Homo sapiens: one gene and its partner. The protein of the gene in region 1 purifies or fractionates together with the protein of each later gene. This does not show direct contact. Each region holds a gene or a part of one and is shown in the gene's direction. Other genes may lie near its edges. The genes, in order: GFM2 and SLX4.

Region 1 (3,815 bases):
AGGAAAATCAGAGTATACAAATGAATCAATAAATTTTACTGCCAATTAGAAATTACCAAGTTAATATGTGGATGCTTAGCTTTTTATGCTTAATTCTATACATTTACATAACAATGCATTTTGGTTGATACAATGTTTTGTAATTTCAATAAGTTGATTTCTACTGTATCGCCATATCTTTCTTTAAACATTACATTGACAAATAAGGGACATTTTAAACCTAAAAACCATATTTCTCATATTTAATCAGAATTTTCCATTTTCTGAATGATGCATTGAATTTTTGGTAGCTAAAAATATTGTTCCAACTTTTTAAAAGTAATACATTTTACCATACATATTACATATGTCTAACTTACATATGCCTTGCTGACATGTAATACATAAGTTTAGTTTTTTGATTTTGTATATTTATTTTTTCAGACAGTAACAGTTTGGAGGATCAAGATGTTGACCAACTTGAGGATATTTGCAATGAGTCATCAGACAATACCCAGTGTGTATATTAATGTAAGCATTTCTTATAAAATTAAGTGTCCTTTAACAACCTCAGCTCCTTTACTGCCTAAAATGCCCAGTATATCTCATCAGCTGTTGATTCCAAATTTAGTTGAGTCATAACCTTTGGAAATCTTCAAGCTAAACTAATTTGAAAGTAATTACCTTAATTTATTAAGAAATATAAGAGGAAATTACCTTAATTTAAAAGTAAAAGAACAGCTGTAGCTAAATACTGGTCTCATGGAGTACTAAAATGCCAGTTGTTTTTGAAGGAGGGGTAGGGTTTTATATCTAAGAATGTCATCACTTAATGCACATCTTTAAACTACTAACAAATAATGTGCTTTGTAATATTAAGTATCCATGGATTGAGACTCTTATGAAATAAAGTTTCTGTTAATATCAAAGTACAACATAATTATACAATGGTTGATACAACTACTTTTGGCTGTCTTCTGCAGAGCTGTTGGAAGCCAGCTTCTTCGGCAGTCTGATATTTGTCTCAGGAACATTGTTTTAGTCTTTAGCTCTGGTCTGACTCCTGAATCCTCTTCAAAACACTATAAATTATTTTCTAAACTATCACATCTTCAGTATACTTAAAGATATTAAATCTCAAACATAATAATACCCTTTTTATCTATAGCTAAGTGAGAGATTACTTTAAAGCTTGTTTGGGTTGTTTCTTTTTATCTTCAGTGACTTAACAGGGAGTACAATAGTTTCCCCTTATTCATGGTTTTGCTGTTTAGCTGTTTCAGTTGCTCAGAGTCAACTGTGGTCTGAAAATTAAATGGGAAATTCCAGAAATAATTCATAAGTTTTAAATTGTGTGCCATTCTGAGTACTGTGATGAAATCTCATGCCATCCCACTTAATCCCACCTGGGAGGTGAGTCATTCCTTTGCCCAGCATATCCACATTGTATACACTCCCCACCCATGAGTCAGTAGCCATCTGGGTTATCAGATTCACTGTTGTGATACTGCAGTGCTTGTGTTCAAGTAACCTTTATTTTACTTAATCACGGTCCCAGAGCGCAAGAGTAGTGATGCTGGCAATTTGGATGTGCCAAAGAGAAGCCATAAAGTGCTCCCTTTAAGTGAAAAGGTGAACATTCTTGGCTTAATAAGGAAAAAAACAAATCATATGCTGAGGTTGCTAAGATCTATGGTAGGAATGAATCTTCTATCCATGAAATTGTGAAGAAAGAAAAAGACATTTTTGCTAGTTTTACTGTTGCACTTCAAACTACAAAAATTATGGTCACATAACATGATAAGAGCTCAGTTAAGATGGAAAAGGTATTCAGTTTGTGGGCAGAAGACATGAACAGAACCATGTTCTGATTGATAGTAATTAGGTTCTGTACTATCTGAGGTTTCAGGAATCCACTGGGGGTCTTGGAATATAACCCCTGTGGATAGGGTGTGACTGCTGTATGGGAGAACCTGTAACCCTTAAGAAGCCTTACCATTCGTCTACAGTTTTTTTGTTGTTGTTGCTAAGAAGCCTTACCATTCATCTACAATTTTTTTTTGCTACTTTAAAAATCACCTGAGCAGCATTTTGAAGAAGATATATTTCTGTATTCCATTTGTGATCTCATTAAGTGGCCCAAGGAGTTACCCAGTTTTTCTTCAGTGCTTTTATTGCTGACGCTTTCAGACTATGCACGCTGTGATAGACACTGGGTCTTATCCTAGTCATTATGCAGTGGAATTATTTTCTGAGGATAGTAGCTTATTATTGCCAGAAACTTGGTAACTAATGTAGAAATAATATAGATCGCACAGATACGCAGTTCATGAAACAAAAAGCAGATTGTGGTGGCCCTAAATCATTACATACACTAACAATTCCAACTACATTGGCAGCTATTAAATGTATATCTAGTGGTCTGGGCATAAACTGAGGTGGAGAATATTCAGCCTTTACATGAGAACATGAGAAGGTTAGGTAAGCAGCTAAGGTAGAGGAGGTAGGCTTGGCCTTAAGCAGACCTGCTCTAACTCAGTGATTCTCAGTTGAATGCTACATTGGAGACACCCTGGGAATTTTTTTTAAATGCCACTGCCCAGTTCCTCCAGTTCTCATTTTCTCTCCCCACCCCCGTGTCTTCAAGAAGCTTTCCAGATGATTCTAATGTGTAACTGTAATAAATCCTGAAAACAACTAATGGTTTTAGAGTTCATTGCCCCCTACAGACCTTTCAGCAGATGTAGAGGAAAACCAAGGTGTATCCTGGGTGAGATACCTTATTTAACCTTTCTGACTCAGCTTCTGACTTTCAGAACTTTAGGGTTGTGGTTCTCAATCTGTAGCTATTAGAATCAACTGGAGAGCTAGTTTAAACAGATTGTTTGGCTCCATCCCCAAGAGTTTCTGATTCTCTTGTCTGGATTGGAGCCTAAGCATGTTTTTCAAACAAGCCCTCAGCCCATGCTAATGCTGCAGGTTGAGGAAAACCATTGTTTTAAGGTCAGCTCAAAATAGCAAATCAGTATTAATTTTATCCTTATTCTTTCCCCTAGGATATATTTGGATTGTCACTTTTTAAAAGAATTGGAGTTAATAAATTAGGACTACTTTAAAGCTATACAAAATATTTTATCTTCTGACAAAGCGTAATTACAATATTAACACTGTAATAAGTGATGCTAAAATAAAATTAATGCCAAGTTTCTTTTTCTCTTTACTAGAATATATGCTGCTATAAAATAAGAGCAAGTTTAAAAAGATTAAAGCCACATGTGCCGCTTGGAAGAAATTGCAGTTCTCTACCAGGTACAAATGTTAGAGTCTTCTAATTTTATCTAAGCTGTTTGCTTTATCTCTTTTCTCTCTCTTGTTTGCAAGAATCTCCCTTATTAGGGCTCTGTAACCATTTTTTACTTCTTGGCTATTTCCTTGAGATTATTAGGGGCGGGAGTGTTCAGATAGGTGCCAGAAGGAAATACTAGTAGAGTTGTGCTCCTTATCTGAGGAACACGCTGATGAACTGAGCAAAGGAAAGGTTGGTGGCTTTAGTAGCTAGTTTGCAAGTTTAACATGTGAGTGTAATTGTAGAGTGCTCTTGTGAATTTCTTTTTCTAGTTTATTTCTGTTTTTTATGCAAGTGTTTTCTGTCAAGAGAGATTTACTAGAATAATTTATTTTGAGGATTGTTATAAGTAGTTTGGCTAAGTATTTGGGATTGTTTAGGTTAGATACATGGCATCAGAAGCTGGAAGGTGGAGGAGTTGACTTACTTTTGAATGTCCTTTCTGTGTTTGAAACAAGCAAGTGTATGGTAGACTCTATGAAACTAGTTT
Region 2 (3,815 bases), on another chromosome or scaffold:
GGGAAGGGATCCTTTTCTGCCGGTGTGGCCAGGACCGTGTAAGGAGCATCGGAAGTATTGATGGGTGAAGGTGGTGGGAGTCCAGGGAGCCTGCTCAGAGCCATCGATTGTTGACTCCATTGGATGGGCTTGGCCACATGAGGATGTGCAGGTACCACAGATGGCTCCGTACATCTGCCATGAGCCTGCTGGACAGCAGCACGTGAAGGAACCCAGACCCTCCTGTGCCTGGGCCATGTTGAACTTCTGGCCTGGAATTGAATGAGTTCACACAAGGCAGTGGAAGTGGGGGACGCATCTGCCTGGCAGGTCCACATCCGTCACTTTTCTCTCAGGCCCAGCCCTCTCCAGACCAGTGTGACCAACCTGAGAAGCGTGCACTCCTCTAGCCCCAGTAACTTTTCTCTTTGGCTGTTTTCTAGCTTCAGTGATCACAGTAGAGGTCTGAAACGGAGAGGACCCACCAGCAAGAAGGAGCCACGGAAGAGGCGGAAGGTGGACGAGGCACCGTCCGAGGACCTGCTGGTGGCCATGGCTCTGTCCCGGTCGGAGATGGAGCCGGGTGCGGCTGTACCAGCGCTCAGGCTGGAAAGTGCCTTTTCTGAGAGGATAAGACCAGAAGCAGGTTTGTGTGATCAGAAGAGTGACCCTGGGAGAGGCCATCAGCAGGTCCCGGGTGAGTGGACCGACTCCACCGTTGATGGTGTCGCTTTTGTTTCTCTCTAGAGAATAAAAGTCGCAAGAAGAAACCCCCGGTATCCCCCCCATTGTTGTTAGTCCAGGACTCTGAAACCACAGGCCGACAGATAGAGGACCGTGTGGCCCTGCTCCTCTCTGAGGAAGTGGAATTGTCTAGCACGCCACCACTTCCTGCCAGCAGGATTTTAAAGGAAGGGTGGGAAAGAGCGGGCCAGTGTCCTCCTCCACCTGAACGCAAGCAGAGCTTTCTGTGGGAGGGCAGCGCACTGACTGGGGCCTGGGCCATGGAGGACTTCTACACGGCCAGGCTGGTCCCTCCTCTCGTGCCCCAGCGGCCTGCCCAGGTGAGTCCCTCCCCTCAGGCACATGGATAGGCTTTTGGGGGAGGTTGGCAATCCCAGAACTGCAACACTGGGTACCCACAGCCAGGTGATGGAAAGTCCAGGAAGGAAAGGCAGAGGCGGGAGGAGGCCAGAGGGGCACTTGGTGGCTGCAGCTTTCTTCTCTGTCCAGCAACTACATGGTACTCTGGGTAGGATCAGGGAGGACCCTTGGTGTCCACCAGAGTGTGTTCCTGGAGTTTGTTGAAAATGCAGAGTCCCGGCCGGGCGCAGTGGCTCACGCCCGTAATCCCTGCACTTTGGGAGGCTGAGGTGGGCGGATCACGAGGTCAGGAGTTCGAGACCAGCCTGGCTAATATGGTGAAACCCCATCTCTACTAAGAATACAAAAATTAGCCAGGCATGGTGGCACACACCTGTAATCCCAGTTACTTGGGAGACTGAGGCAGAAGAATCGCTTGAACCGGGGAGGCGGAAGTTGCAGTGAGCCGAGACCGTGCCATTACACTCCAGCCTGGGCAACAAAGTGAGACTCTGTCTTGAAAAAAAAAAAAAAAACAGAGTCCCAGGGCAACTGGCAAAATGCCTCAGATGGAGCCCGGAAACTGGCATTCGGAGCACACACTCCAGACAGTCGTGCGGCAGGTAGCCCTACAGTCAGTACGCAGCTGCCTGAGGCAGCTTGGAGGACTTCAGGAGGGCGGCAGGCCTGGGCCCCCCTGGCCTCTGACAAGCCTTTGTGCAAACAGATGCCACAGGCCTGGCCTTGGCCGTGACAGAGGAGGAGCATGTTGACATGAGTGCTGGGGAAAAGCATCCCAGGACTGCTCCAGGCTGTGGCTGGAGCCCCGGGGACAGTCTGTCCCCACAGCCCACATCCTGCTCTGTAGTTTTAGGTCCAGCCGTGCATACCACATGTGATGGCTTCTGCAGTGTGTGCGTCAATGACAGTGACCACGTGGTCACTCTCCTTACTGGCTTCTTTCAGGGCCTTATGCAGGAGCCCGTGCCGCCTCTGGTGCCACCTGAGCACTCAGAGCTGAGCGAGCGAAGGTCACCCGCTCTCCACGGCACCCCCACTGCAGGCTGTGGCTCCAGGGGCCCGTCGCCTTCGGCCAGCCAGAGGGAGCACCAGGCCCTGCAGGACCTCGTGGACCTGGCGAGGGAGGGACTGAGCGCCAGCCCGTGGCCCGGCAGTGGGGGCCTGGCTGGCTCGGAAGGGACTGCAGGTGAGATGCTGGGTGGGACTCTAGGGCCAGCCCTGCCCTCCCGGGCCTCCCCTCCCCGCGGCTGAGGCTGCCATGGACTGGCTCTTGTGCCGCCGCGACGGCAGCTCTGACCTGGTGGGAGAACACGCAGCCTCTGGGCGCTTTCATTTTTTCTCAAAGGTCAATGTGGTGTAGACAACTCTGTCATGATTTTCCTTCCACTTTAACCAAAGACAGAGCTGTCTGCCCACAGCGAGTGAATCCTCTGGGTGAACTGTCTGTTTTGCTCTTCTCTTACCTCCCTGGTGGAGTGGTGGTGAGACAGGGTGTGCGGGTTTGCTTTGCATGAAGGTGTCCTCGGATAGCAAGCACCTTCCGAGGCACCGCAGGGGCTGGCTCAGCCTGTGGTCAACGCTGTCTTCTTGGTGGTGGATGTGGCTGGGCTGTGACGTTCCTTTAACCTGTGAATCCTCCACTCAGGGTTGGACGTGGTGCCCGGCGGCCTTCCTCTGACTGGGTTTGTGGTGCCATCGCAGGACAAGCACCCGGACAGGGGCGGCCGCACCTTGGTAAGAACTGGCTCTGGCCCGCGCTCTCTGGTCCCGGCCATCCCACTTGCCATGTGTGTGGTGGGGTTGGCTCACCGCTGGCCTCTGGCCCCCAACGCAAGTGCAGTGGCCTCTCAAGGCCTCTGCTTTCCAGAAGGCTGCCACATCCTGACATCCGTGAGCAGAGCCACGGACCCACAGCCACCTCAGCGCCCCTCTGGGGGCTCTGCCACGAGACTTCTGCCTTTTCTGTCTGTGACTCCATGGGGCACCTTGGGGTTGAGGCCCCAGAGCCTGCCCTGTCCTGGGTCCCAGGAGTGTAGAGGGACCACAGTTTCTCAGCGCGGTTGCCCCATCCAGGCACGCTCTGCTCGTTCCTCAGTAGTTGGGAGCTCACCAAGGGCTTGCTCTCCCTCCCCTCTGTGCGGGTCCTGGGCTCCAGAGCACAGCTGAGCAGCCTGGCCTGGCCTCCCTGTCAGTGCGCTGTCTGGGGAAGAACCGGGGTGGGAACTGGCTTTTCCCTAGAGTGGACCTCCTCCCATTTGCATGTCAGTGTCAACCAAGCACTTCATGCCAAGGCCAGCCTAGGGACATCATCACAGACTGGACCCGGCTGTCCTCTTGGCCAGGTCCCCGAGCTGCTTGGACTCAGGGTGCTTGTCCGTCACAGGGGATGGGTGCACCTCCTCAAAGCCCAGGTATCCCGCAGCCTGTCCCACTCAGTGCGGGAGCTGCCAGCACTGTGAGTTCACATCTAGCCCCATGTCTGGCATCTCCACGGGGGCCAGGGAACCCACTGGCAAGAGCCAGAGGAACAAGCTAGTGCTTTGCTCTTCTGTGCTACTCAGGGCCTTAGGGTCACTCAGAGGTTGAGGCCATCGTGGGAAGCGTTTTGGAGAGGAAAGGAGAATGCAGGTCCTGGCTCCCGGCCCACCCTAGCGCCACCTCCATGCGGGGAGCTTCCCACTGCCCAGTTAGCAGAGCAGAGGTGGGGAGGTGACGGCTCTTCCTCTCCTCCT

The links.
Region 2: the proteins of GFM2 (region 1) and SLX4 purify together in Homo sapiens (co-immunoprecipitation; one large-scale study listed by IntAct). This does not show direct contact.

Annotation. Positions count from the first base shown.
Region 1 is NC_000005.10:74,760,375-74,764,189, reverse strand, and holds part of GFM2 (ribosome-releasing factor 2, mitochondrial), read left to right. Parts: intron 1-423; coding exon of another isoform or gene 424-447; coding exon 448-510; intron 511-3,203; coding exon 3,204-3,288; intron 3,289-3,815.
Region 2 is NC_000016.10:3,594,607-3,598,421, reverse strand, and holds part of SLX4 (structure-specific endonuclease subunit SLX4), read left to right. Parts: exon of another isoform or gene 1-261; coding exon of another isoform or gene 262-422; coding exon 423-625; intron 626-726; coding exon 727-1,043; intron 1,044-2,028; coding exon 2,029-2,269; intron 2,270-2,728; coding exon 2,729-2,817; intron 2,818-3,815. UniProt on the Homo sapiens protein: Regulatory subunit that interacts with and increases the activity of different structure-specific endonucleases.